6 linked regions of the Homo sapiens genome follow. The protein of the gene in region 4 interacts with the protein of the main gene of each other region in a pairwise test. Each region holds a gene or a part of one and is shown on either strand. Other genes may lie near its edges.

Evidence for each region.
Region 1: the proteins of UBE2U (region 4) and TRIM38 interact in a two-hybrid assay, tested with the Homo sapiens proteins (one large-scale study listed by BioGRID and IntAct).
Region 2: the proteins of UBE2U (region 4) and RNF113B interact in a two-hybrid assay, tested with the Homo sapiens proteins (one large-scale study listed by BioGRID).
Region 3: the proteins of UBE2U (region 4) and RNF17 interact in a two-hybrid assay, tested with the Homo sapiens proteins (one large-scale study listed by BioGRID and IntAct).
Region 5: the proteins of UBE2U (region 4) and DTX1 interact in a two-hybrid assay, tested with the Homo sapiens proteins (one large-scale study listed by BioGRID and IntAct).
Region 6: the proteins of UBE2U (region 4) and ZSWIM2 interact in a two-hybrid assay, tested with the Homo sapiens proteins (one large-scale study listed by BioGRID and IntAct).

Annotation. Positions count from the first base shown.
Region 1 is NC_000006.12:25,965,506-25,970,876, reverse strand, and holds part of TRIM38 (E3 ubiquitin-protein ligase TRIM38), read right to left. Parts: intron 4,543-5,371; 5' UTR 4,355-4,542; coding exon 3,944-4,354; intron 1,553-3,943; coding exon 1,457-1,552; intron 1-1,456. UniProt on the Homo sapiens protein: E3 ubiquitin-protein and E3 SUMO-protein ligase that acts as a regulator of innate immunity. Acts as a negative regulator of type I interferon IFN-beta production by catalyzing 'Lys-48'-linked polyubiquitination of AZI2/NAP1, leading to its degradation.
Region 2 is NC_000013.11:98,173,961-98,179,021, reverse strand, and holds RNF113B (RING finger protein 113B), read left to right. Parts: upstream 1-1,752; 5' UTR 1,753-1,785; coding exon 1,786-2,740; intron 2,741-2,845; coding exon 2,846-2,859; 3' UTR 2,860-3,237; downstream 3,238-5,061.
Region 3 is NC_000013.11:24,860,606-24,865,976, reverse strand, and holds part of RNF17 (RING finger protein 17), read right to left. Parts: intron 4,710-5,371; coding exon 4,590-4,709; intron 3,265-4,589; coding exon 3,184-3,264; intron 1,105-3,183; coding exon 979-1,104; intron 1-978. UniProt on the Homo sapiens protein: Seems to be involved in regulation of transcriptional activity of MYC. In vitro, inhibits DNA-binding activity of Mad-MAX heterodimers. Can recruit Mad transcriptional repressors (MXD1, MXD3, MXD4 and MXI1) to the cytoplasm. May be involved in spermiogenesis.
Region 4 is NC_000001.11:64,261,506-64,265,999, reverse strand, and holds part of UBE2U (ubiquitin-conjugating enzyme E2 U), read right to left. Parts: intron 1-4,494. UniProt on the Homo sapiens protein: Catalyzes the covalent attachment of ubiquitin to other proteins.
Region 5 is NC_000012.12:113,087,075-113,092,445, reverse strand, and holds part of DTX1 (E3 ubiquitin-protein ligase DTX1), read right to left. Parts: intron 1-5,371. UniProt on the Homo sapiens protein: Functions as a ubiquitin ligase protein in vivo, mediating ubiquitination and promoting degradation of MEKK1, suggesting that it may regulate the Notch pathway via some ubiquitin ligase activity.
Region 6 is NC_000002.12:186,834,524-186,839,894, forward strand, and holds part of ZSWIM2 (E3 ubiquitin-protein ligase ZSWIM2), read right to left. Parts: intron 4,647-5,371; coding exon 4,436-4,646; intron 3,032-4,435; coding exon 2,783-3,031; intron 623-2,782; exon of another isoform or gene 507-622; intron 1-506. UniProt on the Homo sapiens protein: E3 ubiquitin-protein ligase involved in the regulation of Fas-, DR3- and DR4-mediated apoptosis. Functions in conjunction with the UBE2D1, UBE2D3 and UBE2E1 E2 ubiquitin-conjugating enzymes.

The sequences.
Region 1 (5,371 bases), on a different chromosome or scaffold from region 4:
CATTAGTGCTGTCTAAATTAATGCAGTGGGAGTGTGTATTCAGGGCAATTTGAATCTATGTTCTTGGATTGCAGTCTTCAAACTTGGCCCAAATAAACTCTCTACTTATCTTAAAAAAATAAAAATTAAAAAATAAAAATAAATTCATACAGTGTTTTGATGACTATGATATAGAAGAAGGGTCTTTGACTTAGGATGAGGTGGAATTTTTGTGTAGGAGACAGGTGCAGCTTTAACTCTTGTATAGACGGGTTTTCATATATGTTAGTTACAATCAAGGTCTTCCCCATTGCCCAAGATCCTAGAAATGGGGGAAGTAAGAGTGTACTCAGGAGCTCAAGAGCAACATCCACAAACAAAGATCAGGGTAGAGGTTAGAGAGGACTCCTGAAAGAGAGAAAATTGGTAATCAGCTTGTGGGATTTTACTGCAAGCTAGTGAATTATATAAATATAAAGATTGGTGCAAAAGTAATTGTGGTTTTTGCCTTTACTTTAATGGCAAAGACCGCAATTACTTTTGCACAAACCTAAATATTTCCATAAAAGAATGTGGCTCTGATAATGTGGAGGTTAGTCAGCCACGGAAATAATCTGAAAGTTTGTAGTTGCAAGTGTGTAGGTTGTTGCATTACTTGTGATGTACTTATAAATCAAGTATAGGCCGGGTGCAGTGGCTCACGCCTGTAATCCCAGCACTTTGGGAGGCTGAGGTGGGTGAATCACGAGGTCAGGAGATCAAGACCATCCTGGCCAACATGGTGAAACCCCGTCTCTACTAAAATACAAAAAATTAGCCAGGCATGGTAGCACATGCCTGTAATCCCAGCTACTCAAGAGGCTGAGGCAGGGGAATTGCTTGAACCCGGGAGGTGGACATTGCAGTGAGCTGAGATCGCACCACTACACTCCAGCAAGACTCCATCTCAAAAAATAGTAATAATTTAAAAATAAATAAATAAATAAAGTATATTTCTTTCATCAGCTTCATGAGCTAGAGTAGTATGAATTTCAATCTGGAGTGATCCTGTTTTCTAAGTGTTCACAAAGCTTGGTTTCTGTACCTGTAAAGTTGAGAGCCAGATGCTCCACTGTGGTAAAAGTGCCAGGGTAATGAGTTGAGGCCTGCAAACCAGGTTTATTTTGACGTATTTAAAGTTTGAGACCCACTCGATGCTTTTTCTAGGTAAATAGTCATACTAATTCTGCTTCTTCTGACTGAAGTATCAGGAATCCCAGCCAACTACAGTTTAAAGATGGAAAGATTGGTGCTAAATACTCATGGATGTAAACCTGGAACCAGGGGCATAAGTACAAATAATGGTTTCTTCCTTGGGTTTCATTTTTTCAATCTGGTTTAGTGAGAATAAATCCTCATTGTGCTTTTCCTCAATCATCCCCTATGCCTAAGCTCTAGAATGGAAAATAGCTTGAGATCAATGAAGTCAGATTCTTACTTTCCATTTAGTTATTCGCATTGCTGTGGACAGCTTCTGCTCCGTACATCTGTCTTCAAGTTGCTTCAGTTTTGTCACAGCTTTCTGGAGCTTTTCCTGAAGGAAAAATTTGATAAGTGAAGCCTATTCAATTTGACTCTTCATTAGGGACCTAGGGGGAATCCCAATCTTCTAAGATATATTTGAATAATAGTGAATATTTATAGAGTCCTCATTGTTTTTTGCTAGAGAGCATGCTAAAGGCTATATGTGCAGGAACATACTGATCCCCTTGGCAACCCTGAATAGTTGGTAGGATTTTAAACTTCATTTCTGTGCTGTAGAAAATGAGACTAAGAAAGGGGTAAAATAACTTGCCCAAAGGGCTATGACTGCCAGGTGGTGGAGCAACAATTGCAATCTCATCTGCTGACCCAGAGCCTGAGCTATGTCCACCACTAGAGTCCTGCCAGGAAAAAGTTGGATATAGAACAAGGTAATCATCATCTAAAAGATTTTGTAAAACAACATGCTGAACCAAGCAAAACCAATACCAGTGTTTGGCACACATGAAATTTTGTGTCTTATGAGTCAGGAAAAATCAGGATGCCAGCTGGTTATTAGAAACAGTTCATGGAAGAGGGGAATTCTGGTATCTTTTGAACAATGGTATCATGAATCCAATTTAAAATGATTTAGTATTCATGTCAAGCTTTTAGCTTATTCTTCAAAACAGTTTCTCATATTTCTATTGAAAGTGATTTGAAGCTGACCCAAATTGCTAATTGTAGTCAATGCTGAAAGAATTGTCTCCTGTCCTCTGTAAACCCAACAAGTATACTCATTCATTCTCGAGTGTTCTCAGGAAAAGGTTCTATGTAACTGTTTTAGCAAAAGATGACATTGTCCTTACTATATGCCAAGTGCTATTCTATGCATTCTATATTTTAATGTCCTCAAAGCTTATAACCACCTCCTGTGTATGTGTTTTAGGGAGGGAGGACACTGCTATTATCCCCATTTACAGATGGAGAAACCAAGGTGTGAAGACATTAAGTAACGTGCCCAAAATTGCCCATCTAGTAAGTGACAAAACTCAATTTCAACATAAGCTGGTTCCTTTTCTTACTACTTGGTGGAAAAGTAATTCAAATGGGAATATGATCATCGCAGTTATTAGCTGCTCCATGGAGTTTAAGGAAGAGCTGCCATGAGCTGAGTGGTGGTCATGATTGACATGTCCTTAGAAGGACTTAGAGCCTTCATACAAGACCACCTCTGCCTCATGGAGGACAGAATAAGGAGCCTGACACTGGAGACAACATTTTCCTCAAATTTAGGCAGGACAGAGAAGGAAAAAGGACATCAGGACTATGCCCATTCCTCCATGCTGCCAACAGCAAAGTCCCACCTTCCTTAATATGCTTTCTGGCAAGAAATCTGGATGGTACACAAAACCTCTCCCTCTGCTTCACCTTCCACAACCAAGCATTTCCAAATCTTTGACTCTTCTTCCTGAATCGTGCTTAAAATCTGCCCTCTCCTCCCTTTCTTATACGGATAGTTTGAATTTTACTCCTTGATATTCCTTTTATCATAGACATGCCACAGTAGCTGGGCACAGTGGTTCATGCCTCTAATCCCAGCATTTTGGGAGGCTGAGATGGGAGGGAGACCAGGGGTTTGAGGCCAGTATAAGCAAGAAAGGCAGACCATGTCTCTACAAAAAATAAAAAAATTATCCAGGTATGGTGGGGCATCCCTGTAGTCCTAGCTACTTGGGAGGCTGAGGTGGGAGGATTGCTTGAGCCCCAGAAGGTTGAGGCTGCAGTGAGCCGAGATTGCACCATTGTACTCCAACCTGGGATACAGAGCAAGACCCTACCTCAGGAAAAAAAAAAAAAAAAAAAAAAAAAAGTAGAGGTACCAGAGTGATATTTTCAATGTCACTGACCCTTCATTCCCCAAATGAAAATCCCCCAATAGGTGTTCAATTTTTACGTGTCCTTCAGGAGTTACTTCTAAGATGAACCACTCTCTACCCTAAATGTCCCTCCCCACCACCAAAACCAGGGACCTCCAGGCAGACATTTTTGATGGTTTGTTTTCTTTACTAGACTGTAGATACCTAAAAGGTGATGGGTCTTTCTTCCCTGTTTTCAGGCCCTACTGCATGGCTTTACATATTGTGGTTTTTCAAATGATATTCATGGTGTGAAACAAGAAAAAATGCGGGTGTTTGGTTTGAGAACAACCTGTTCTAAAGCAAAAAGAAATTCATCATAACACAAATGGATAGAGATAAGAGTCCAACCATCCCATTGAAGGTCAGGATGGACAGTCTAGATAATTGAGCAAGAAATCATCATAAACTATTTTTCAGAAGAATGACATGATGAAAGCTGTATTTCCAAGTCATAATGTTAGGTTTCAAGTTAAATCATCTCAGCTCCTGGGGAGCAGGATAAGACTTGGTACTTACCAAAGCTCCCGGGCCCACACACTCACCTTGTAGCCCTGGCATACGTCTTCAACAAGAGCTGTGGTGTGCCCTTTGTGCTGTGGTGCCCGCTCACAGCGCCAGCAGATGAGCTGCCCCTCGTCTTCGCAGAACAGGTGGAACTGCTCTCCGTGTTCCTCACATGACATTTCTTGATCCGTCTCTTTGAGGGCTTCAATGAGGCTTCCCAGCTGCTTGTTGGGTCGGAGGCTATCCATATGAAATGGAGCCCGACACTGGGGACAGCAGAATGTCTCCTGCCTCAGTTGCTTTTGGCTTGGGTTTTTAAAGAAGTCTGTTATACACAAGTGGCAGTAGCTGTGTCCACAGTTGATGCTTACTGGGTTCGTCATCAGGCTCAGGCAGATGGAGCAGGTGGCTTCCTCCATCATCTTCTTGGTGCTGGTGGTTGAGGCCATAGCTTTTATTGAAAAGCTCCAATATTGGCTCTAGAGATGGAGATGAAGCAGCCAGAATTTTCCACCGTGATGAAAATACACCTCACCTGCACCTCTATGTGATGAGCTGGCTGCAACTGACTTCCATAGGTCTTGAAGGTTTTCCTTCCAACCCCTATTATCTCATTTTGTATTGAAGAAAAGAGGACCTAAAAGGAAGAAGTTGAGGCTGAGGTTGTTTGGGCCACGTTTGAGAACTGCAACCCAAGTGCAGAGTTTCAAGTTGCCCTCATTAGCAAGCAGTTACAAGTGGTTGTTTAGAGGAAAAAAAGCAGTTTTAAAGCAGTTTTAAAGTTGTTTGCCAAGAATTTACATTAAAATAGCATAAGCTTTTGACTGGCTATACATTGTTCTTTGTATTACAAATCTCGGGAATATGTAGGTAATAGATGAGGCAGCCAGTCAGGAACAAAATGCTTTTAAACATGGGGTCTTAACTGAAGACCTATACTCCTGCCTCACTTGTCCTGATAAATTTTGCATACCTCACATAGCTCAGACTGCTCTAAATTATTTCATTATTTTTCTTTTCTCAGTCTTCTAACTTTTTTTTTTTTTTTTAATGAGACGGAGTCTCACTCTGTCACCCAGGCTGGAGTGCAGTGACGCTATCTCGGCTCACTGCACCTCCGCCTCCCGGGTTCAAGCGATTCTCCTGCCTCAGCCTCCCGAGTAGTAGCTGGGTCTACAGGTGTGCACCACTACGCCCAGCTAATTTTTGTATTTTTAGTAGAGATGGGGTTTCACCATGTTGGTTGGCTCGATCTCTTGACCTTGTGATCCACCCGCCTCAGCCTCCCAAAGTGCCAGGATTACAGGCATGAGCCACCGTGCCCAGCCTCTTTTTCTTTTCTTATAAGACAAGTTCTCGCTCTCTTGCCCAGGCTGTAGTGGAGGGCAGTGGCATGACCACAGCTCACTGCAGCCTCGACCTCCTGGGTTTAAGCAATCCTCCTGCCTCACCCTGGCAGAGTGGCT
Region 2 (5,061 bases), on a different chromosome or scaffold from region 4:
GTTCCAACTGAATCACACAAAGGACAGTCCAGTGTACAAGCCCAACAATACCGATGGATTCCAGCCAGCTTTTAGGCACCTCACTCTGAAGTATAAACAGCTGGAGATAACCAAGTATTTTAGAAAAGCTTCCAACATGAAAGATGGGATGATAACAGTTGAAGAAAAATCTAGAATTACTATCCTAAGAGAAAACTGACAAATGATGAATTGTTCTTTACACTGTAAGCTTATTCATCACATTTCCAACAGCTGAGGATGCCTTGGTGTCTAGGAAGAGAGACCCACACAACTTCTCCCTCATCCCACAGCAGCCAGTGTTTTGGGGGCACTACAAGTGAGCTGAATCTCATCTTCCATTCTAGTAAGTAAAGAGATAGAACCTAAATTAGAAAAAGAAATTGCATGTAACACTTTATGACATGCACTGGCTAAATAAGAACTAGAATCCATTTACATTATATAAATGAATTATTTCACAACTTGAAGATAAACTCAAGAAAAAAAAGGGTTAAAAATATTTGAAGGCGGGGTGCAGTGGCTCACGCCTGTAATACCAACATTTTAGGAGGCCAAGGTGGGTGGATCACCTGAGGTCAGGAGTTCCACACCAGCCTGGCCAACATGGTGAAACCCTGTCGCTACTAAAAACACAGAAGTTAGCTGGGTGTGGTGGCACACACCTGTAATCCCAGCTACTCAGGAGGCTGAGGCAGGAGAATTGCTTGAACCCGGGAGGCAGAGGTTGCAGTGAGCCGGGATCATGTAACTGCACTCCAGCCTGGGCGACAGAGCGAGACTCTTTCTCAAAAAAAAAAAAAAAAAAAAAAAATTAAAAATGATTATCTTAGGTACCAGGAATTGGCGTGTGGAGGGGCCAGGCAGGGGACAGCCAATTTCCATTACAATAAGTGCTTGATAATATTTTTTTAAATGTTTACATGTGTTACTTTTATTTCAAAATGAAAGCCAGCTACACACCCACAGGTGCAGTGTGATATGACAGTCTTTTAATAAAGGCTATATTAAAAGAATAGACACAAAAGTGTTGACAGTGGTTATCTTTGAGGGGAGGGATTATAGGCGTCTTACTTTTTGCTTGTATCTGTTTTTGTTTTCTGCACTGCGCGTGTGTTGCTTTTAAATACGCATTTCAAGCGCCTGTGTTTTAGGATGAGCACCACCGGTTCGCTATGGCCTGGAATGATTCCACCCGTGGCCTTTTAGGAATCTGTTGAAAAATGAGTGTGCACTGAGGGAGCTGAGGAGCAAGTGAAGATGACTCTCTCAAGGAATCCATCTGAGGGCCAGGAGGCAGGTCAAGGGAGGGAAGGGCGGGAGAAGCCTTTTTTTTTGGTTTTTTTTTTTTTAATTTGAGACAGGGTCTCGCTCTGTCACCCAGGCTAGAGTACAGTGGCGTGATCTCGGCTCACTACAACCTCTGCCTCCTGGGTTCAAGCGATTCTTCTGCCTCAGCCTCCCTAGTAGCTGGGACTTCAGGCGCACGCCACCACACCCAGGTAATTTTTGTATTTTTAGTAAGGATGGAGTTTCGCTATGTTGGCCAGGCTGGTCTTAAACTGCTGACCTCGGGTGATTCTCCCACCTCGGCCTCCCAGTGTCCCGGGATTACAAGAGTGAGTCACCGCGCCTGGCCTAGCAGAAGCTTTTCTTTCACTTGCTTTTGCTTTTTAGAACTGGGAGGGCCCACGCCCCACGTGCAGCGACGCAAGGGCGACGCAAGGGTGACGCACGCCACGGCCGTTGGGAGCCTGAGACTCAAACATGGCAGCGCCACCTTCTCCAGGAAGGACGGCCGACCAAGCAGACCAGGTATGCACCTTCCTCTTCAAAAAGCCTGGACGGAAAGGGGCTGCAGGCCTCAGAAAGCGCCCGGCCTGCGACCCCGAGCACGGAGAGAGCAGCAGCAGCGGGGACGAGGGCGACACAGTGGCTCAGCCCCCGCGGGTGGCACCGAGGCCCCGGGGCCTCCACAGCTGGCAGAAGGCGGCTCACGGCGACAGGAGGGGCGAGGAGGCGGCGCCTGAGAGCCTCGACGTGGTGTACAGGTCCACCCGCTCGGCGAAGCCTGTGGGGCCAGAGGACATGGGGGCCACCGCTGACTTCGAGCAGGACACCGAGAAGGAGCACCATACGCCGACCATCCTCAAGTGCAGCCAGCGGGTCCAGGAGGCACTGCGGGGTCGGGAGCACGACCACATCTACCGGGGAATCCACAGCTACCTGAGGTACCTGAAGCCCAAGGACACGTCCATGGGCAACTCCTCCTCGGGGATGGCGAGGAAGGGCCCCATACGTGCGCCAGGGCATCTGCGCGCCACTGTGCGCTGGGATTACCAGCCTGACATCTGCAAGGACTACAAGGAGACTGGCTTCTGTGGCTTCGGGGACAGCTGCAAATTCCTCCACGACCGTTCCGATTACAAGCTCGGGTGGGAGATTGAACGGGAGCTTGAAGAGGGTCGCTACTGTATCTGCGAGGACGAAAACCATGAAGTGGGAAGCGAGGAAGAGGAAATACCATTCAGGTGTTTCATATGTCGCCAGGCCTTCCAAAACCCAGTCGTCACCAAGTGCAGGCATTATTTCTGCGAGAGCTGCGCGCTGGAGCACTTCCGGGCCACCCCGCGCTGCTACATCTGTGACCAGCCAACCGGCGGCATCTTTAACCCCGCCAAAGAACTGATGGCGAAACTGCAAAAGCTTCAGGCTGCAGAAGGTGGGGGCAAGTCCCATTTCACAGAAGACCCCCATGAGTGTCCAATTCCCATGGCTTAGGTTTCCCATAATTCTCACATTTAAATAAATTTTTTTGTTCTTTTAGGAAAAAAGAGATAAGAAAGACTCAAGTCTGTATGTACACTGGGGAGAAGCAGCCTGTTGAGTAAGATGAGAGAGATGACAGTCTTCCTGCAATCCCATGCCTGAGTATGTAACCAAAAGAATTGAAATCCGGATCTCAAAGAGGTATGTGCACTCCCATGTTCACTGCAGAATTATTTGCAAAAGCCAAGAGGTGTAAACAACCCAAGTGTCCATGGATGGATGAATGGACAAACAAAATGCGATACACACACACAATGGAATGCTATTAAGCCTTAACGGGAAGGAAATCCTTTTAAAGATTTAAACTGATCCTTTTAAGGATCACATGCTACAACTAGAATGAACCTTGAAGACGACACTGCTAAGTGAAATAAACTAGTCACAAAATGACCAATACGCTGTATGATTTTTCACTAATATAAGGTATCTAGAGTTGTCAAAATTACATAAAAAGTCGAATGGTGGTTGTCAGGGGTTAGGAAGAGCGGGAGTGGGGAGCTGTTGTTTAATGGGTACAGAGCTTGAGTTTTGCTAAATGAAAAAGTTATAAAGCTCTGTTACACATCAATATATATATACCTAATATGAGTGAACACTTAAAAATGGTTAAGGGTACATTTTATGTTTTGTACTATAATTAATTTTTTTTTTCAAAAAAGCTAAAAAGAGATATCAGAAAAGGAAGAAATGATGGAACCAAGACCGGGAGGGAGTGGAGAGGATGGGGTTCAAGAGTTACCAAAACAGCAAATAAAGGATATCAGTTAAGAACCAAGGAGGGGAGGAGTTGACAGAAGAATATCCACGCTGAAGTTTGGATTTGATTTTGTTTGGCTGATGTTAACATCCTCTCCCTTAAAATGGCAATGTATTCCTCTCCCAAGACAAACACCAACAGATCCACGCTGAGTTCCTCACAGCTGATGAGTTCCTTACAAGGAACTGACACAGATTATGTAAATTTTCATAAGAGCCTATCTCATATATCAACTTTGGCTGTGAATTCCTTGAAGACTGAAACCATGTCTCACATACTTCCTGTTTTTTAATGGCCAACAGGTAGCTCAATAAAAAGTCAGTTAGTGAAAAGTCAGTCAAACCAAGCTACCTAGCAGTCGGCTATGCAAGCAACTGCGGCAGAGCGAACTTCGGCAAAACTTTCCACGTGATTTTGACCTTGAACCACACCCATCGACCCACCCACCACCATGGCCAGGTTGCAGACAAAAGCAGAGCCGTGGTTGAGGGCACAGACCCAGGAGCGAGATAGGATTCAAGTCATGGTTCTACCAGTTACAGCTGCGTGACCTTGGGTATGTTACTTTACCTCTCTGTGCCTCAGTTTCCTCATACATAGTAGTATCTCACAGGGTTGTTTTGAAGCAAAAATTAACATATTTAGAACAGTGCCTGACATACAGTATGTGCTATCAACATATCGATTATTGTAATTCAAGCAGGGAAAATGGCAGCTTGATAGTCGACAAGGCAGACAGTTCAAGTGCCCCATAAAAGTGAGCCATTTATTCTGGCATTTCACATAGAGCTTTCTCTAAGAATTGTCCTTGCCAAAGCTAACAACACAAAGCTTGTGTACAATGACTTACTGGGCCCTACCCCTAAGTCCGTCCGTTTTTGTCAGTTCTGTCAAAGGGCTATTTTATTCACTTTCAAGCCTTCCAAAAACATTTGGAATCTGCACAAAAGAAGAAATATGAAACTTTCAGGCACTCCGAAGCAGAAACTCTAAGCTCTGGCTCCAGGATTTTTCTCCCAAGGCTCACTCGAGTTTCTTTACAATGCTTCATGTATGTCCCTTCCTAGACACTGGACTCAGCTACGCTCGTGAACCTTGTCAACAAGTGCTCCAAGTCACCAACCTTTTGAAAACATTCCAAATATGCACTAAGATATATAGTTCTTATTCCATTTTTAAAATGACAGAATAAGGTTCATAATCAATCATTTGCAAAATTAAGCAGAAAGGCGATCACTAGTAAGCGTTGCCGAATTTGGCAATTTGGTTTACTAACATAGAGTGGGTAAACAAAATCTGCTAGCATTTTGGCCGATTTCCTTCCAGTCTTTTTTCTGTGTATTTTTCATATTAATGTATGAAATAAACATTCTGGAGTTGGAAGGAAGAAGCAAGCAGGACTGCAGGGAGTGCACACATTCCTTGGGAGCTGAGTCCTTCCCATCACCACGCTCTAA
Region 3 (5,371 bases), on a different chromosome or scaffold from region 4:
TTTCAACAATAAGAAACCTCAAATACATGTTAACACATGTCAAAGCTAATTCATTTATTATAAGAGTGGGAGTTCTTACCTTTCCCTTTAAAATGTTCACAGTGAATAGTACAACTAGAACAGAAAGACTAAGTAATCTTTATAAAACGTGTTTAATAACAGACGTAACTTCTTTTACACACACACACACCCCCACTCACCCACAACAACCACACCTCTGCTTTAAAGAAAAAGCTGGCAGTGAGGATTACAGGAACAAAGTTATAGCACGATTTCTATTTGAGAGAAGAAAGTAGTTTTCTTTATCCATAGAACAATGTTTGGTTGTGTACTACCACCAAAATGAATATTAAAGAGTCTAACAAGTAGACTGCAACTCTAGAAATAAAAATATCTTGTGATATAAAATATAATGATGCATAATCTACTCCTATAAAAGATTTATAGCAGCTTGAAATGTGAAACCATATCTTGTAACAGGCTATATTTTTTAAAGTACTAAACCACAGAAGCACCAGGCAAGGAATGAGCCACTTATGGAAGCTAAGCTCAAAATGTGACTCTGGGTTTCCTGTGAGAAGGCAAATGAGAGAAATTTTGTAATACACGGCTTTTGTGTCAAGTAAAAGGAAAAAATATTTTATCTGGAGCAAGAGCCCTCTGCTGGTACTGAATTCTATAAAGATTTTAGAATGTGCATCTCTAATTCAAACAACACTGAATAGCATGGGCATCGCACTAGGTTTGAAGGTACAGAAACATTAATTGAATCTTAATGTAATTAAAGTCTTTTACAGGACATTTATAATGCATGACACAGCCTATTCATCTTTCTCAGCAAAAATGTGTAAGTCCTCTAGACTCTCTTAATAGATCAGATATGTAGAATCATATTTAAGACACAGTGTAAGACAAAATGTGACATTTTAACTAGACTTTTCTACACTTTAGATTTTTATAGAAAAATAGTGCACTTACTTCTTTCAACATCTCCTCAGTATGTTCAGAAGTACAGTATTTATAGTATGCCATAAAATAAGAAAGTGACATTCCATCAAAATAGAGGTGAATAGACAATTTCTCCCATGGATTTTTAGGTAACTCCTATTTAAAGTTCAATAAAGATAATCATAAAAATAAACTCCACTTGATGACATTTTTATAGTCAGCAAATATCAAATTTAGCTTCTGACAATCATAGTATTAACTAGACAGTTTGGCTAGTGACTCATTTCATAGAATTTTCTTCCTGGTATTTTGACGCGCTATAAGGGAGTAATTCTACTACTTTGGTTTATGTAATATACACTTTCAAGTTCATAGAGTTTTCTAGTTATTTACCACAAAATAACTAGTTATATATAATTCCAATTCCCAAATACATCACCTTTAGATGATACTAATAAATTACACTACGTACAAAGAGAAAGAAAAGGTTACGTTCAGAGGTGAAGAAATAAAGTTTCATTTAAAAATCCAAAATTGGTGGGACTCGAAACAGTCTAAAAGCAGGAATCATGGTAACTTTAAAACTCTGAATAAAGTTCACTTACAGTTATTGGGTGCTGAATGTGTCCCTAACTGATAAGCTGACCTACAGCAATTCTCTTCATTTCCACTGATCCCACCTTTGTCCAAACTCACTGCTCCTCACTGTTTTACTGCTCCTCACTGAATTACTGTTGCTGCCTCCCAGCAGATCTTGTCCTATCTCTTCTTACCATTCCCTCTTCTGCCAATGCAGTCCCCTCCCTCCTAGCCCTGCTCCTGCCTCAGCACTCATCTCCCTGCACCCGTGTGGTCTGTCCTCTAACCATTTTAAGGTGTTGACTCAAATGTTACCTTTGCAGCGACGTCTTCCCAGATGCATGTTTAAAGTGGAACCTCCTCCCTGGCCATGCCATTCCTATCAGCCTCTCTCTTATCTAATCTAATACTCCTCATAGTTTATTTTCTCTTTCCCACCACTGAAATGGAAGCTCTAGAAAGGCAGGGATTTCCTACTGCTCAGCCCCCAGCTGTGTGTCCAGGCCTAGAGCAGAGGCTAGCACCTAAGAGGCCCTCTGTCAGCATCTCCCTTTGCGTACAAGGGAGAGGAGTGAGTCTGGGCAAGGCCTGCTGTCGGCTGGGTTGTGTGGCATGCACATTCGTGGTCTCTGAGACACCTGGCAGCCTTTGCTATACCACAAGCTATTCTTCTGTGTCAATTAAGCGAAGAAGCAGTGAAAGCTGTCTAGACAAACTAAAAATTTCAATCTCTACCATATTTCAGTGACTTGCCATGGAGACTAAGTAACTAGGGAGGGACTCTTAGTACTAACAAAAGCCACTTTCTTATGTAAGTGAGTGTGTGCCTCCTTTAGGTTTTTATCACTCTATCATCATCCTTTAATACAGAAATACTTTCCTTACCATATATCTTCCCATTCAGGCCCTGCAAACATAGCAGCTGCAGGTTGATCTTATTACCTCACTGCTCAGAAACCTCCACTGAGGCTCTCCCTACCAACCCCACCAACCGGCCCCTACCTCTCCTGAATGCTATTCACTACCACTACTCTTCACCAAACCTCCACTGTTCAAGTCAAACAGTTACACCATTTCCCTAAAATGTCTCTCTGTACCTTTGTGCATTTCATTTCCCCAGTCAGGAGAACATTACAAGGGCTACCTCAATTCTCACCATCTCTAAATTCCTATTACATTTACTCTTTTTACCAGTCACTTAGCTCTTGGCATGTTACTTTGTAGTGCAAATGTTTTAGGTTTTTGCCTTGTTTCACTAACCAGATAAGGGCTTTGAGGACACAGATCATGATAGACTCCCAGAATTACCTGGACCCGAGACAGTGCTGAGTGTTCAGCACCATCTTGGAAACTGCTACATATAATTATAAACATGTCCAACAATTTAATACTGCTCCCTGTAACAAAACAAGCTGTTAATAAAGAATCTTTCAAATTAGTGACTTTAATGGTTATGAAAGTTCTCAGGAACTTGTTCAAAAGCAGGCTTATTTAAAGCAGGCGCAGGAACCAAACTGGTAGTTTCTTTTATGCTAACAAGCAATTCACATAAGAAGGTATATACCATTGCTTATCATCAAAAATATCCCTCAAATTATGTTAATTATAATATTTTATGGCAAGTAATTTATAACAACTATATATACTTTAAATTACCATAATGTGAATGTCCACCTGTCTCTTTGAAAGCAGTTGTTGAAGAACTTCTATTGCATCTGGTTGCCAGACATTCCCAACCTATTTGAGATTAATAAACTCAGATTCTTTTATGCTTTCATAAAATCAGAGCAGGAAGCAAATTAAGATACACAAAAGTAGCCATAAACAAATAATATCAGATAGTAGTACAAAATACACAAGCAGTTCTCAGAGAATATCATAGGTACATGATAAAAATAATCTTTAAAAATGAATAATTTGAGTACTCATTTTATGCTTTAAAAATATAAACCTGTTCAGCCAGAGGTGAGAAAACACACACACACACACACCCTACATTTAAAAACAAAACATTACATTTAAGACTTTTTAAAAAAGACCAATATGCCAATGCAGTGCTTGTACAAGGCCTACAATATGTATTCATTAAGGAATAGCGGTTGTTGCGTCTTTATGCGTTGAGAGGTTCACATGGTGAGAAGTGAGGCTTCCTGCCAAAGCAATGTGAGTCAGCCATCTGAAGTGGACCCTCTGTCCCCAGTTGATCCTTCAGGTGACTACACTTATGGTGGACATCTTGACGGCAGTATCACAAGGGACCATGATATGGTTTGGCTGTGTCCCCACCCAAATCTTATCTTGAATTGTAATCCCCATGTGTCGAGAGAGGAACCTGGTGGGAGGTGACTGGATCATGGGGCAGTTTCCCCCATGCTGATTGTGAGTTCTCACAAGAACTGATGGTTTTGAAAGTGGCCGTTTCCCCTTCAATCTCTTTTTCTCCTGCAACCTTGTGAAGAAGGTATGTGCTTCTCTTTCGCCGTCCACCACAACTGTAAGTTTCCTAATGCCTCTTCAACCATGGAGAACTGTGAGTCAATTAACCCTCTTTTCTTCATAAATTACCCAGTCTTAGGTAGTATCTTTATAGCAGTGTGAAAATGGACTAATACAGACCCCTTGTCAAAACAAACCAGCTAAGCCACTCCTAATCCCTGAACCATAGAAACTGCATGAGATAATGAAAGTTTATTGTTGTTTTAGACCACTAAGTCTCAGCTTAATTTGTTATGCAGCAATACAGAATAAGACACTCTTTTATCTGATCTCCAGCTTCAAGTTTGTTGTAATTTCATTTGATAAAGAAATAAAACTTTTGCAATCTTATACCTTCCTACTTATGAACATGTCTCTTCATTTATTCAGATGTTTTACAGCCTTGAGTATAATTTTGTAACTGTCTTCATAAAGGCTGTTTAGCTGTCTTAGTAACTTATTTGTTGGTGTTTTATTACTTTTTTGTTGCAACTGAAATTTCATTTTACATTCTAAATATTTCTAAAAAATTATTAATAAAAACTAATATTTAAAATTAATCATTCCACAAATTATTATGTACTCACAGGTGTGGTATTATGGAGCTGACAAGGAATACAAAACTGGGGTATATCAGGATACAGCAAAATAGGGTAAAGATGGCACTGCGGAATCTTTTCAGTGAATCCATGATCTAAATATTGTACCTGAAACACGACAAATACAATTTATAGTTAAAATTTATTATTAAAAGCTAGGGGACAAAAGGAATTTCCTGTTATTAGAAAAAAAGACAGGCCGGGCTTGATGGCTCATGCCTATAATCCCAGCACTCTGGGAGGCAGAGGTGGGTGGATTGTTTGAGCCCAGGAGTTTGAGACCAGCCTTGGGAACACGGCAAGACCCCATCTCTAACAAAAATAAAAAAAATTAGCTGTCTGTGGTGGTATGCGCCTGTAGTCCCGGCTACTCAGGATGCTGAGGTGGGAGGACTGCCTAAGCCCGGGAGGTCAAGGCTGCAATGAGCTGTGACTGTGCCACTGCACTCCAAGCCTGGTGACAGAGGAAGAACTTGTTTCAAAAAAAAAAAAAAGACATCTGAAAAGTTTAAAATCTGGATTTCAAAAATTTCCAGGAAAAAAAGTAATACTGTATTTATTCCCTCATCCAATAGTGTATCAAACCTCATTGTAAAAAGGTTTTCTTACACTTAACCCATCAGACTTTTTTTTGAAAAAAAACTGGGTTTTATTGGATTTACAAATTCCTCAAGAGCAATCCCTTTTTGAAATGCTTTAATTTTGATAATTCAATTTCTAAATTGTCTTAAGGATAAGGAATGCCAATAAATTATTTCTTCTGTCCCAAC
Region 4 (4,494 bases):
TGTTTATTTCCCTCACACATGAAATAAACCCTGTAATATTTGCTGTCTTCTAATGTTATAGACATGGGCTACAAGTGACTTGTTTTCCTTCTGTCTTTGGTTTATAGAAAGATACACAGACAGACCGGGCATGGTGGCTTACACCTGTAATCCCAGCATTTTGGGAAGCCAAGGCAGGTGGATCCCTTGAGGTCACGGGTTCGAGACCAGCCTGCCCAACATGGTGAAACCCTGTCTCTACTAAAATACAAAAATTAGCCGGGTGTGGTGGCAGGAGCCTGTAATCTCAGCTGCTCTGGAGGCTGAGGCAGGAGACTCACTTGAACCCGGAAGGCAGAGGTTGCAGTGAGCTGAGATTGACCCACTGCACTCCAGCCTGGGTGACAGAGTGAGACTCCCTCTCAAAACAAAACAAAGAGAGAAAGATACACAGAGAGATGTGAGTTTACACAGTCACCATTATCCTATGGTTATCCTGAGGCCCACAGTGATTTTTAATTTTTTGTACTTTCGGTACTAATATTTAGTTGTAATTAATTTAAAACTAAATTCTGTCTGTGCCTTGAGAAAAGCATCTATTTATTTTCCATGAACATATTATTGATGGACTAACTCCAGTTCTTTCTAACCATGCTTGGGCCTTTCTGACTCCACATGCTTTTGATTACAAGAAATATAAAGCCAAGTCAACCCAGTTTAAACAATAGGAGAGTGTTTTATCTCACATAAGAGAAAAGCCAGAGTGGAGAGCAAGACTGAATGTTTTCAGTGACTCCACAATGTCACGAAGGACACAGCTCTTCTTACTGCTTGCTTTGCTAACTGAGGTGTTGTCTTCATCTTCAGGTGCATAGCAAGAGAGCTACGGCCATTCTAGTAACCACACCGGACACAGCAACATCCAGGGGAAAAAGCGATCTTCTCACCAAGATCTCATTTTTAAGAGTGGACGGCAAAACCATCCCCTGAAGTGCCCAGCATATTTCCCCTCAAGCAGGATCCTGTCACATGCCATTTCTTTTATTTTAATTTAATTTAATTTTTTTTTTGAGGCAGGGTTTCACTCCCATTGTCCAGGCTGGAGTGCGGTGGCGTGCTTTCAGCTCACTGCAACCTCTGCCTCCTGGGATCAAGTGATTCTCTCACCTCAGCCTCCCAAGTAACTGGGACTATAGGCATTCACCACCATGCCCAGCTAATTTTTTTTTTAGTAGGGATGGGGTTTTACCATGTTGGCCAGGCTGGTCTCAAACTCCTGACCTCAGGTGATCCACCCACCTTGGCCTCCCAAAGTGTTGGGATTACAGGCGTGAGCCACTGCGCCCCGCCCCATTTCTAAACTAGTTACTGGGAAGGGAAATGGGATCACCATGATTGGCTGACGTGAGTTGCTGGCGTGGAATGAAAGTTGGGAATCAACCACCTTGACTATTTGCCTTCTTAGTTCCTGCCCTGTTAAAAACTCCCAGGAAGCATAAAAAGAAACCTGGCTAGATCAGCAGACTATAATGCAAAATAAATATAGAAATGTTTCTTTAGAACATAAAAAACAATATTATTTTGAATTTCTCTCCTCCAGGAAATCTTAAGCATTATAAATCTCTCTGAGACACCTTGGATTTGGTGGTTGGAATCAGTAATAAAGGTGGGGATTTTGTTACTATGTTAACAAAATAAGTTATGGAAGCACAAATTCTAACTGCCTTATATTTTCCATGCCTTTCTTGGGTTGGATCATGGAAACTCTGCCTCTGATAATTTATTTTTAATCTGAAAATAGTTTAGCTAATAAAGATATTAAAATCTGTGCTGACTGATGGGCTTTGATGATTGCCAAATGGTTTATTTCTATTCAGTCCTGTTTTCAGCCTGGGTTCAGTTAGGAAAACAGAGCCACTACAAGTAATACAAGAGTGAGAGTCTAACACAGGAATGTGGGATTATCCAGCTGTGGGAGGACCCAGGGGAGTGAAGATCTGGAAGCTACAGCTGGAGAATTGAAAAAAGAGTCGTGACCCACTTTAGTCTGATGCACTGACACGAGTGGGAAACCAGGAGCTCATAGAGTACAAGAGGCTGCACACATTTAGCCACCCAAAGTGGGACAAAAACAATGAGTTCATGGGGATATTTGTGCAGCCACCATGTCTGTGAAGTGAGGCTGTGGAGAGATGTGTGAAAATGCCATATCTGAGGAACCCGCCATGCCTGATATGAACAACTTCCCAAGCATAATGTCCTCAACTTCCCTCCCACCTGCCAAATCTCTGGTGAGTTTCTCCCACTGGCAAACTATGACATGCCATCCTTCTCTGCAAAAGAGGGACACACAATTCTTTCCTTTTCTGAGTCATACTTCCCTTTGATATCCTATATAAGTTCATTCTCGCTACATAATAACTCTCTTGCTACATAATAAACAACCACAAAATCTTAGTGACATACAGCAATAAGTATTTGTTTTGGTCACATGTCAGCAGGTCAATAGGTGGTTGGCTTCTTTGGCTGGGGAATGGCTGGGAAACGTGGGTGGGCAAGCTCAGATCTATGCCTTGAATCTTTCTCTGTGATCAGAGGGCCAGTCCAGGCACGCTCTGGTGATGATGGCAGAAGAGAAAAAGAGCAAGCCAAATCATGCAAACCCTTTCCAAACCCTGGGGGCACACTGCACCCACTAATATTCCACTGATGAAAACAGGTCACAGGGAAAAGCTCAAAGTCAAGGCACAAGGAAACATGTTTTGTTCATGTAGGTGGAGCAGGAATTAATATTTCTGAACAATAATCAAATTTACCACAACCTCTCAGGTATAGTTTCTTCCAGAGTAGACAGAAAGGAGTCTATTCCATGATTAAAGAGGACAAGGCTCAGCACTGGAGCGCTAACCAGTTTCTGGACATTAAACTTAAAATGTTGTCTCTTCCAACTTGCCTTTTCCCCACTTATCATGGGTTTTCACCTTTTTTTCCCCCAAATCACAAGGCAGATAAAAACATGACAATTTTACTTCATCCTACTATTTACTTACTCATTGATAGCTACTGTATGCCAACCACTGTGCTGTGGAAGACTGGGAGGTGAGCAGTCCCTTCCCTCAAGAATCTCACTCTTTTTCAAAGGAGACAGGCAGTAAAGAGAGTAATAACACAGCATGTGTGCCGGACAGACTCCAAGATGGCCCCTAGAATCCCTGCATCCTGGTATTTACACCTGAGTGTAAACTCCTCCTTTCTGAGTGTGGATAGGACCCATGACTTCTAACCAATAAAATAGGATGCAAGTGATAAGGTCTCACTCACATGATTATGTTACATCACATATGACTCCATCTTGCTATCAGACTTGCTCTAAAGACTCTTGCTGGATAAAGTAGGAGGCCAGGCTGGGAGAGCCCATATGGCAAGGAACTGTGTGCAGCCCTCAGCAGCTGAGGGAGGCCTCCCACATATACCCAGCCAGAAGCCAGGGCCCTCATTCCTAAAGACAGAAGAAAATGGATTCTGTCGACAACCTCACTGGGCTGGGAAGCAGATTCCTCCCCCATTCAAACCACTAGGATGAGAATGCAGCCCAGCCAAAGCCTTGATTGCAGCTTTCTGAGACCTTAAGCAGAGGATTCAGCTAAGCTGTGCCTGTACTCCAGGCCCACAGAAACAGTAAAATAATAAATGTGTGTTGTTTTAAACCATTCAATGTGTGCTAATTTGTGACACAGCAATAGAAAACAAATAGAGCATGATACGGCTATGGTAGAAGTGCTATGATAACCCACAAAGAAAGTTTCCTAAAAAAGGTAATACCCGAACTGAATCTCAAAGGATGCATAGGCATTAGAAAGTAAAGAAGGGGAGAGAAGAGCATTTAGAGTAGGGGTATGAGAAAACACAGTGTACTGCTCAAATTTTTTTATGAAATGAGGTAGGGAACAAACAATCATGACCCACTAGCTTAGTGTAGCATTTAGGTTGTGAAGGGGAGAGGGAGGGAATGTCACTGCAAAGACAGAGACAAGTATTAGAGCATTAAGGATTTTCTGTGTCAAAGAGTCTAAATTTTATCCTGAAGGAAAATGGGAAACAAAGTATTTTAGACCTGGTAAAAACATAAGCAGAGCTGAGCTATAGAGACATAGCTTTGTCACCAGTCTGACAAAGCATAGACAAAAATTACTGTAATCACATCAACTTAACCAACTGATCTCTTCCACTGGTGAACATGGTGGGGATGTTGAAAGACAGAGATTGCAGAGGGGAGTAGGGAAATCATGGAGAAAGCAAAGAGCAAGGCTGGAGAAGGCAACATTTCCTACCTCACAGGTACCCTGAAATCTGGAAGAAGGGAGAGTTGAATGGAGAAGGCTGAGGCTGATAATACAGAGGAGGAAATCTGCGTGGCACACCAAACAATTAGGAGGGAGAGAGGTGGATACTGAGCAGGGAAAAGAAACTTGGAGATACGGGGGCAGGGCCCTTGGAGAATCACTGAATGAAGGT
Region 5 (5,371 bases), on a different chromosome or scaffold from region 4:
AGCTGCTTTCATATCTCAGTTCAACCACTAATGAGCTGGGCGACACACAGCACATCATCTCATCTCTTGTAAGGGGTGGTCTGTAAAATGGGGACAATATGGTACCTTTTTTTTTTTTTAATCTGCTGTGAGGATTCCGTGAAATTATATGTGTCAAGGGCCAAGCACAGTTCCTGGTACCTAACAGCTACTAAAAGCACAGCCATCGGTATCATCACTGTCAGCTGTGCAATCCTGGCCGAGTAATTTCACCTCTTTGCTTCCCAGGCACTAAGTCCTGGTGTAACTTCTCTCCATCTTAGAGAGGAAACCACAAAACTGCTGCAGTGACAACCTTGAACAAGTCACTTAACTTCTTGATCCTCAGTTACCTTATCTGTAAAACAGGCATATTAACACCTCACTTATAGTCGTTGGGAGGACTGAAGGAGAGCTTGCGGTGATGTGTACAGTGTGTCTGCCTGAGTCCTCCTGACTTCAGCACCTGTTTATGCAGGGGAACTGGTGTCTTGCTGTTGATGGGCATGGAACCCAGGCTGGATACGTTCTGATGAAGAGGGGTGTTCTGAAATCCAGGGGTCAGCCTGAAGGCCTTGGGGGATGTGCCAGGAGAGGGGGCAGGAAGGGCTGGGAGCAGTGACAGCTGGAGAAGGAGCTGCAGCAGCCCCCTTGGCTCTGGCCGTGCCTGTTCAGGTCACAGCCTGTCTAATGCTGTCTGGTCACCTGTCCTTGGCAGGCACAGTTGGCACCAGAAAGCATCTTCAAGCAAATGGTGCCCTTGGCAGGCTTGGGTACTGCTGCAGTGGGTGCAGACACACAGACATACACACCCAGGGCACACACCATCCACACAGATCCACAGATCCAAATATACACACATGCATGGAGAAGACCACACAGACTTATCATACTCCCCGGGACACATTACACACACATGTTTAAGTACACAGACACACAAACACACACAACCCAGGGAGTACATCACAGATACATGCACACACAGACACACAGATACCAGGGAGCCTCCCTCCCCATCCGTCTACTTGGGGAACATACCGCACACACTAGGGAATGCACACCATGAACATATACATGGATACACACAGGCACACTTCAGGGCACGCCCCCCACAAACATACATGGATTAAGATACACACACACTCACATATTCCAGGGAATGCCTCCCCACACCTACATACAGAGACTTGTGCACACACGGGGACACACACATACACACAGAAGCACACACAGCTCTCCCCTGGGAGGATACTCCATTGGACAAGAGTCGGTGGCTCATGTAGACCAGTACCGCACCTGCTACTGCCGCCCCTCTCCCCAGCTGCACAGAGCTGGGTAAGGTGGGCAGCAAACCCAGAGGAGCATGCGCTCAGCCCTACAAGCCCCCGGCGCGCTGCAGCCTGCAGAACGGCCTGCCGTCCACACGCGGACACACGATTCCGCACCGCCTGTGGGGAAGTACTCGTGCGTACTGATTCACATCATGCATGGGGGCGCAGGAGGACACGCTGACTCACTGCACACGAGGACACATGCGCACATGCTCTGACCCACACCTCCTGACACTGACACACAGACACTCAGCCTGGGAGGCCCACACCTGCACACATGCAGAGGCACAATCACACATGCACACAGGTGCAGCGCACACACACCCACTTGGTGGCTGCTCGGCTATACAGGATAGTATCACGTGGCCAGGACTCCCATCCCAGACCCCTCTGAGGGCTGTGGAGAGGTCTGGAGCAGACATCTGGATTGAGCCCCTTGAGGAGGCGCCGGTGTGATGGAAGTCAATGAACACAGCTCCCGAGGGAGGCAGGATGGGATGGCGGGTACCCTGGGTCCCCCAGGACCTGGTCAGTGGAGGTGGGAAGAAAGCACTGTGCCTCAGTTTCCCCACCTGTAATGGGGATAGAGTCCTGTGAAAGTTAAATGTGCTAAAACATGTAAAGCTCATCATTTGGCGCAGGGATGAGAGTGGAGGTGTCTTGATTTTCTTGTCGGGCACCCTGCGGGGGGGCCCCAGGAAGAGGGGCACTGAGTATTCATTTGACCCTTCTCAGGGTCTGTCATAATCCTCCAGGGCCTTCCTCAGGGGGGCAGCTGTCACCACTCTAACTTCCTCCCTCTCTATACTTTTATAGGAATGCATAGAGGCATTTCCCTCAAGCTTTTCCTCTTTCCTGCCCATTCTTCAAGCACCTCTAGTGCAGACAACCTGGTTAAGTCTAGGTCTGCCTCACCCCTCTTTCTTCCTTTCTGCCTCACAAGAAGAAAGTATCTCTTTTTTTCTCCAGGACTACCTATAAATTGGGTGGAAAGAAAAATATTGAGCATGCATACCACCACTGGTTGGTCTCCTGCCTGTGGCAGACATCACTAATCCATCACAGCACTCTCTCAAGCTTAGCAGAGTCCTCAGTACAGCTCTCCAAGCAGCCTCTATCAATCAGTATAGCCAGTTTGCTACCCCAGGTCTATATAATGCCCAGTCTGGCCCAGTGGGTAACCCTGCTCTTGCTGAGTGTTTGGTCTAGGAGTTAGACAGAGGGTACTCCAGGAAGGGAAGGATTTAGATCTCAGCTGCCCTAAAATTTCTGGAGCCCCTTAAATACCACATAGCCCTAGATTACAAAAGTCAGTCTTGCTCCTGGGAAGAGCACTGTGAGTGGGGTGTCACTGTGGGACTGTTATTTATTTACCCATCAGTGAGCCTGGGGGACAGTCCCGAGGTAGTCTCCAGCTTCTCTCTAACTGCAGGCCTCCTGCGAGAACCCAGGGTAGCAGAGTTCCCACGAACCCTGAGCGTGGGAGCCACCCGGCCCCCTTTTGATGTGGGACACGCTGTTTCCTCCGAGTCAGTGAGAACATCCTCCTGCCTGGACAAGCGACCGCTGCCTGCGGGCCTCCCGGAAGGGGAGCCAGCCTTCACCCCTAGCTCTGCCTTCTTGGGGGCCCAGGCTGGCACAGGACCTGAGGAGTCCCTCAGGCCCTCCCCGAAATCTACTCTGACCAGAAGGCAGGCATGGGCCCCACTGCCATGCAAGCCTCTCTGCCTTTCCCAGTCCCAAATCAGATCCCATCTGTCCTCTGCTCTCACTCCTCCTGCAGCTCCCACTTTGCTCACAGTTAACACCTGGCCTCCTGATCTGGCCCCCATCTACCCTCTGAACCTCATTTCCTATGTGTTCACCCCTCTCCCACTCCACTCCAGCCACCCTGGTCTCTCTGCTCTTTCTCAAGCATGCCAGGCACACTCCCACCCCAGGGCCTTTGCACTTGCTGACCCTTTCCCAAGGTGCTCTTCCCAGATATCCTCATGGCACACTCCCTCACTTAGCACAGGTCTCTGCTCAAATGTCAGCTTATCTGAGACACCTTCCCGACCACTTTATTTAGTTATTTATTTATAGACAAGATCTTGCTCTGTTGTCCTGGCTAGAGTGCAGTGGCTTAACCATTGCTTACTGCAGTCTTGAACTCCTGGGCTCAAGCGATCTTCCCACCTCAGCCTCTTGAGTAGCTGGGACTACTGGCACACACCACCACACCCAGCTTAAACAACAACAACAACAACAACAACAAAACTTTTGAGGAGACAGGGCCTCGCTGTGTTGCCCAGGCTGGTCTGGACCTGACCTCCTGGGCTCAAGTAGTCCTCCCTCCTCGACCTCCCAAAGTGCTGGGTTTACAGGCATAAGCCACTGTGCCTGGCCGCAACCACTTTATTTTTAAAAAGCCCATCTTTGTCCTTACCTTACTGAATTCTTTTTTCATAGCACTAATCACGACCTGACATTATAGTCTTTTTTTAAAATTATACTTTAAGTTCTAGGGTACATGTGCACAACGTGCAGGTTTGTTAAATATGTATACATGTGCCATGCTGGTGTGCTGCGCCCATTAACTCATCATTTACATTAGATATATCTCCTAATGTTATCCCTCTTTAAGCATGACCAGGCCCTGTATGATCTGGTCCACGCCGCCTCTTCTGCCAGACAAAGTTAGAGCAGGAATGTCAAATATATGAGTGCATACCACTACTGTCCTCCTAGCACCCACAGCAGGCATTACTAATCAATTTCGGCATGCCTTACCGCTAAGCCAAGATGCAACTTCAGAATCCTCCTCAACACAGTGCTCCAGGAAGTCACTGCCCTGGAGCAGAGATGGCACATGAGATGAACTCTATTTGTCATTTATTTTGCAGATGATGGGACTGAAGCCCAGAGAAGGGAAATGACTTCACTAAGGTCACCCAGCTGGTTGGTGGTGCAGCTGGCACTGGGTCCTGGAGTTTCCGAGTCAGGGGCCAGGGCTGACCCTGCCAGGTTGGTCTGTGGAGCCATCTGGAGTTGAGCCAGCCTAGAGAGCCCTCTGTGCTCTACAGGTGGGCTGAAGTCTTTGACCTGGATCCTGGAGCTGGCTCAGGCCTGGGCAGGGTAGATCAGGGCTGTCTAACTGGATCCATTGGCCTGCTTTGGCCACCTCTCTCTGTCCCCTAGAGGGGTCCAGGATCCCGAAACACTGACAACTGACCCTCCCTTTAGGGCAGCCAAGTCCCCTCCCTCCTCCAAAGTCTGGTCTCCTTATCTCTCCCCTCCCACCCCCAGCAGGCCTAGACTTGTTACTTTCTCTGATGCTAGTTTCCAGGTCCCCCATTGGCCTTGGCCCCCTTCAGGATACCTCACACTTACCCAGCAGACCCCAAAGAGCCCCAGGAGCCTCAGGACTCAGTCATTTGGGGCCAAGTGGGTGAGGAGGGGGCAGAAGTGAGGATGTCACTTTATGGGGAGAAGGAAGTTGAACAGTGCTTTAGGGACCCCCCACCCTCTCCCTTTCTCCTTTCTAGGGGTGTGAGCCTGTCACCTTTCCCCACTTTCAGGGCTGTCTCTGCCTCATAGCTGCCTTCTCCCCCTCCTCCCCCCACAGTCCTGGGGAACACAGCCTGGGGCCAAGTCCCTGCCGCCACCCCCACTGCAGAGACTTGAAGGACATCGCTGCAAGCCCGGGGGACCAGGTGCCCATGGACTCCTCCTCAGCTGCTGTCTGGGGTCCTCACTTCCCCTTTCCTTACCCCAGCACCTCCGTCTGCCTAGACAAACCTCTGAGCTTCTCTGGGCTTCAGTGTCCCCTCTGTGAAATGGGACCCCTTACTTCTGTCTTCTAGACCCCTTACTTCCATGTTCTAGAGATTAAAGGATGTAAAAGTCCCCTCGGGAGACATTTTGAGGTGTGAGTGGTATTGGAGGCTCAGATTTATCTAGAGGTATGGGGGCTGCGGGGGTCACTCTTCAACCCTCCCGGTCCTCCAGCCTGCCCAGCTCTCTGCGGGGGAAGGAACGGG
Region 6 (5,371 bases), on a different chromosome or scaffold from region 4:
GAGAGATCTAGGTTGTGTGCTCCTTATGAGAATCTAATGCCTGATGATCTGAGGTGGAACAGTCTCATCCTGAAACCATCCCCCAATAACCCCCATGGAAAAATTGTCTTCCAAAAAACTGGTCGCTGGTGCCAAAATGTTTGAGGACTGCTGTTCTAGAGACTGCCTACATTTATTAGCTTGTGACCCTTTTCCTCCATTTTCAAAACAAACAACGTAGCATCTCTCTGCCTTTCTTCCACAGTCACATTTCCCTCTGACTTTCTTGCCTCCCTCTTCTACTTTTAAGAACCTGTATGATTATACAAGACTTATCCAAGCAATCCAGGATAACCTCTTTATTTCAAGGTCAGTGATTAGAAACCTTAATTTCATCTGCAACCTTAATTCCTCTATGACATACAAGTTCTGGGCGTAAGGATGTGGACGTTTTAGGAAGTCCATTATTTTGTCTACCACATGCCCCTTCCATGATGCCTTCTCAGACTACCTTAGCTTTCATTTACCTCTTTCTCTACATTCTTACAGGATGTACAGTCTATTAGATATTCTGTCATTTGATTATCCAGTGCTGCTTTCCAGTTGTTTCATGAATGCCAGAGTTAGAGTTGGCAGCATACTTCTTGAAAATAAAAATTATATTATTTTTTCCCCACAGAATGGAAAAAGGTAAACATATAAAAGATCTCAATAAAAACTATTGACAAGTCAAAAAAACCCACTTTCCATAAAAGCCCAATCTCAAGGTTATATTGTTTATAAAAATTTTGTCACAAGTAGAGGATTTTAAATTACTTGCAACATAATTTACCAAACTGAAAATATTCTGAGCAGTAGTCAAGTAAACTTATTATTCAAGTTATCAAATATTTAGAAGATTATTGCCATGAGAAATTTAAGAAAATATGTCCCTCAGACATCTTAAAAGAAGCAACTGCTAATTTATTCATTATTACTCTTTGTACATACAGGGAAGATTTTAATAATTAACACCAATGGGTTGGACAAATGGTGCCATTTATTCAATACATCAAAGTATGCTGGGCTAAAAAAAGTTAAGCATCTCTGTATTTTAACATATATCTAGTAATTTCGGAATTAACCTCTTAAAAGATGAAGTAGTTAAATTCTGAAATTCTGATGAAGAAGGAATGAAGAAACTTTCTAGTTAATCTTGTCTCCTACTCAATGTGTTCCTAAAGGAAATGGAAATAGTTTTTCAGACTGATGACTGAAATGTCAGTACTCAAGGGAATGGAAGATGGATGGAGTCACACACATTGAAAATGCATTCTTTAATTTGTAAAAGAGAATGGAGACAGAGATGAGTAATTGTTAGCCAGATCCGTAGAGGAGAAGTTATGAGACAAGAAAAGATTCTCAAAGGGGAGTGTAGGGTCACTAGTGGGCAGGGGGCAGGATAGTGGGCCATGTGTTTACTTAGTAGGAAGAATAATGCCCCAGGACAGAAAGAGCAGTCAGAAAGCTCTGAGTGACAGGAGTGCACTGTCATCAACAACATACCTAAGCAATATTTGTACTAAAGCTGCCTGTAAACCATTTGGGGAACATTGATTGTAAGCACTGAGAATTTTACACTGTGGCCCTCACATGTCCTTGTTCCCCCACATGTCCCAGCCCCCACTTTTACATGTGACCTTATCCCCTCCATGACTGGTCCTATCCACCCCTCTTGAGAAAATTTAAATGCCCATACGATGGCTGCTAATACCAAAGATCAAGTCCTTCCTTTTCCTGGAATCCTCTTTGACCAACATTCCTGAACCTAGCTGAATATCCCTTATTAAAAATTTATAAAAATTCTGTACTTCCACCCCAAGTTAGAATCCTCCCTAGGAGCCTTCTCAGGCCAGCCATTTTCCAGTAAATACTTTTGTTAATAATCAACTTTCTTTTGTGTTACACATACAGAAAACAAAACTAAATTCAAAGGAGAAAGGTATAATTTGCTGTTGGATGTGATAATGTTTTACGGTTTTATGACAGAGTTTTAATATATATATAAATTAGATTGGGCTCATCATAATGTAATTCAAGAAGGCTGAAAAATAAACTGATACATTTCAAAAAAATGTGACAAAGATTGAAATAATGTTTTCTTCTTAATGTACTGTTAACTTAAAATTTTAATTAAGAAAATACAAATTTCCTAGGCATAGCAATTAATTTATGTTTTATCGTGAGAATTGTGGGAAAGTTTGGGGGTTACTCACAGTGAAAATTGTTTGCTCTAATAATTACTATGTTTTTGTAGTTGTTGAAGTATAAGATATGAAATAAAACAAAACCTGTACTCATTGCCATTTGGAGTAGGGGGGACTGGATTAAATATTCAGTCAATCCAGTCAATGTCTCTCTGGCCCAATCTTCGGAATTTTTGGCAATGACTTCAAAGGTAGTTCAAAGAAAGTTACAGAGGGTGAGAGATCCAGCAAGGCTCTAAGCTTGGAAACCTATGTAGGCTAAAGCCACCTATCCTGTGTCCAGAGCTTCTAGGATGGGGTGCTACTTCAGACCCAATCTGGACCAGAGCTCAAACCAATACCCTTGAACAGGAGAAGAAAATAAAACGATTGGAGTTCCTGAGATACTGGACTGAGATAGAAGTCAGTCTGTGAGTCCTAAATAAGCAGTCGTCACACAAGTCAAACAGTATATGCAGGAAGAGGGAGGCTACAGAACGGGTACTCTAATGCTCAAAGTTTCCTGATGTAAAAAAATAAAAAAGAACACATGCTTATAATTTACGGATAACACTTACTTATAACACTTCCCCTCAATTGGAAACTGTTTGCAGTTATTACAGGGAATCCCAAGGTGTTTGTCCAGTCTCTCTTTTTCTGCTGCAGCTACTAGTTTGCTAGAGTTTTTGAATTCCTCCAAAATCAGTTTTAATGGTGCAAACTCTTTCCTGCACAGAGGACATTTCAACATGGAAGTGTTTGATGTACTCTGATAATTAGCTAAGATCTTCATGCATTTTATATGAATACTATTGCCACAGCCAAACCTATGAGAGATAAAATTGAAGTTTACCATTTGTATAGAGCAGTTTTACATATCCATTGTATATATATATATATATTATATATATATTTATATAAATAAAATTTCCTGTGCTACCATCTTTATTCCACAAAAAAATAGATTCTGAACTGATTTTCAGCTATAGCTTGATTACACACACACACTCACTCATTCTAGTAATCTATCATCTTTAATACATCAGAATTCCAAACTTAAATTTTCCTTCATTCCAATGAAATGGTGAAAGATTTTGCATCATTAAAATATTTTCATTTGTAAAGTGAGAATGAATATAGGCTTAACACAAAGGAGAATAATAATTATTATTATTTTAATAAAATGCTTCACTGAGAGCAGGGGTGCCACCATACTTTTCCAGAAGTCACACAATACATGGTAGTACCAAAGAAATATCTGCTGAGAGAAATACCATTTTGGAAAGTAGTTAATAATTTTACAATATGCAATAGAAGCAGACACATGAACAACTACAGTGTGGACAAAAGTTTTGTTAAATTATCAGAAGAAAAAAGAATGATCAGGAGAAAAAAATTGCAATGGAAAATGACTGTCCAAATTTTTCAAGTCCAACTTTATAGTGCTGTGAAGAAAAGTATGAACATTAGACTCTCAATAAAGATTTAAAGTATAATAAAAAAATTAAAAATAAAATAAAATAAAAGTAGACAGCTGATCTGAGGTCTAACAAAACAAGAATTGGTTATGTAGACAGAATGAAAGGGATGAAAGAAATATTATTGTTGGCATTAATGAGTAAAAAAAAAAAAAGATTTGTACATATGTGAAAATTGAATTATTTAGGTTTAAAGATAGAATTTTGAAAAACTAAAAATAATTTTTGTAATTTCAAAGTAAAATAATCTTTACTTTCAGAAAAGTCTTTATAACTATAATAAACCATCACATTTATTCATGTGTATAAAATAAAAACACAGAAATTACTCTACCCTTGTTACTTAAGGTGGGAAGAGGAATAATTGTGGAATTATGTTTCAGTTTTTACCCTTGTAGTGTAGCTCAGAAAGATTTAGAGTAAGAGCATATATTTAGCTCAAAACATATATATACACACACATATATATGTTGCTTCCTAACATATATGTTATATATAATATATATATTTCTATGATATATATTTATATATTATAGATATTATATTTATATTGTAATATATTATAATATATTTATATTATATATATTATATATATGTGTGTGTGTTAGGAAATAAAAGAATGTTAATTAAGTATAAATTAGCAGTAGGTAAAGTTGTCTATTTTTTCCCTATCATGTCTCCTAAGGTAATAAATCAGAAATATGTTTTAGAATTTTTAATTAGTTTTAAGAATCTAAAGAAAAAGTACATCACCTGCAAAAGGTGACAGGAAGCTTTTTCTCTAAAAGTAGCTCTTGACAAATAGAGCAGATATCCTCTGAATCAATTTCCTTCTGTTTAATGTACCCATCTTCTTCAACATGTTCATTTTCGTCATTTGTTCCTGGTTGGGGAGTTTGAACTCGATGTATCCCCCGAAGCAAGTCACTTATCTCTCTTTCTCCAAGACCCAGTTGTAAAGCAGCTAGTGAGAAATCCCAAAGTATTAAAATCCAGTCATAAAATTGGAGCTACAGAGAGGTAACAACTTATGCTGAAAGTTAGAATTTTCTTTCAAATATCAGAGAGACAGTTTTGATTGAATTATCACACTGACATTGACCCCTTCTTTACATTTTTTTCAGAGCCAAAATGTCAGAAAAGAGTCATTTAAAAAAATATAAAAATTATTATTTTTTCTTGTAACTGAAAAAGAGTCAATGCAAACAGTGCACTTGAATATGATAGTGTTCATCCTTGGATTGGTGTTACAATCATGTCTTATACTTCGACCTGTTCACTAGTCCATAAACAAATATTTTGTCAACATATAAGAATATTAAAATAAATGGGACATGAATACATGAGGAGGAAACTGATATCCGAGTAGCTACTGTAATTATTTGTTAGATGAATAAGTGAATTAAATAATAATGGAAGAGCAAGACTTAATTAATTGTGCCTATTTTCTGTTTCTGTTTTGTGTACCTACAAAAGCGTGTCTCATTAGTCTTATCCTCAACAGATTTGGTCAGTGTTTCTCAGGACAATCTATTAGTTACTATATTGCTTGCACCATTGGGATGTGCATTTTTTGAATTCTGTATTTTCTCTATCCTGCAATCCTTAAAGGAATGATGTTCTAAGTGCCTATAGTATTGATCAGGGAATCCTAGATTCTTCATTCCTTGGCCCATCCCTTTGCTGCTT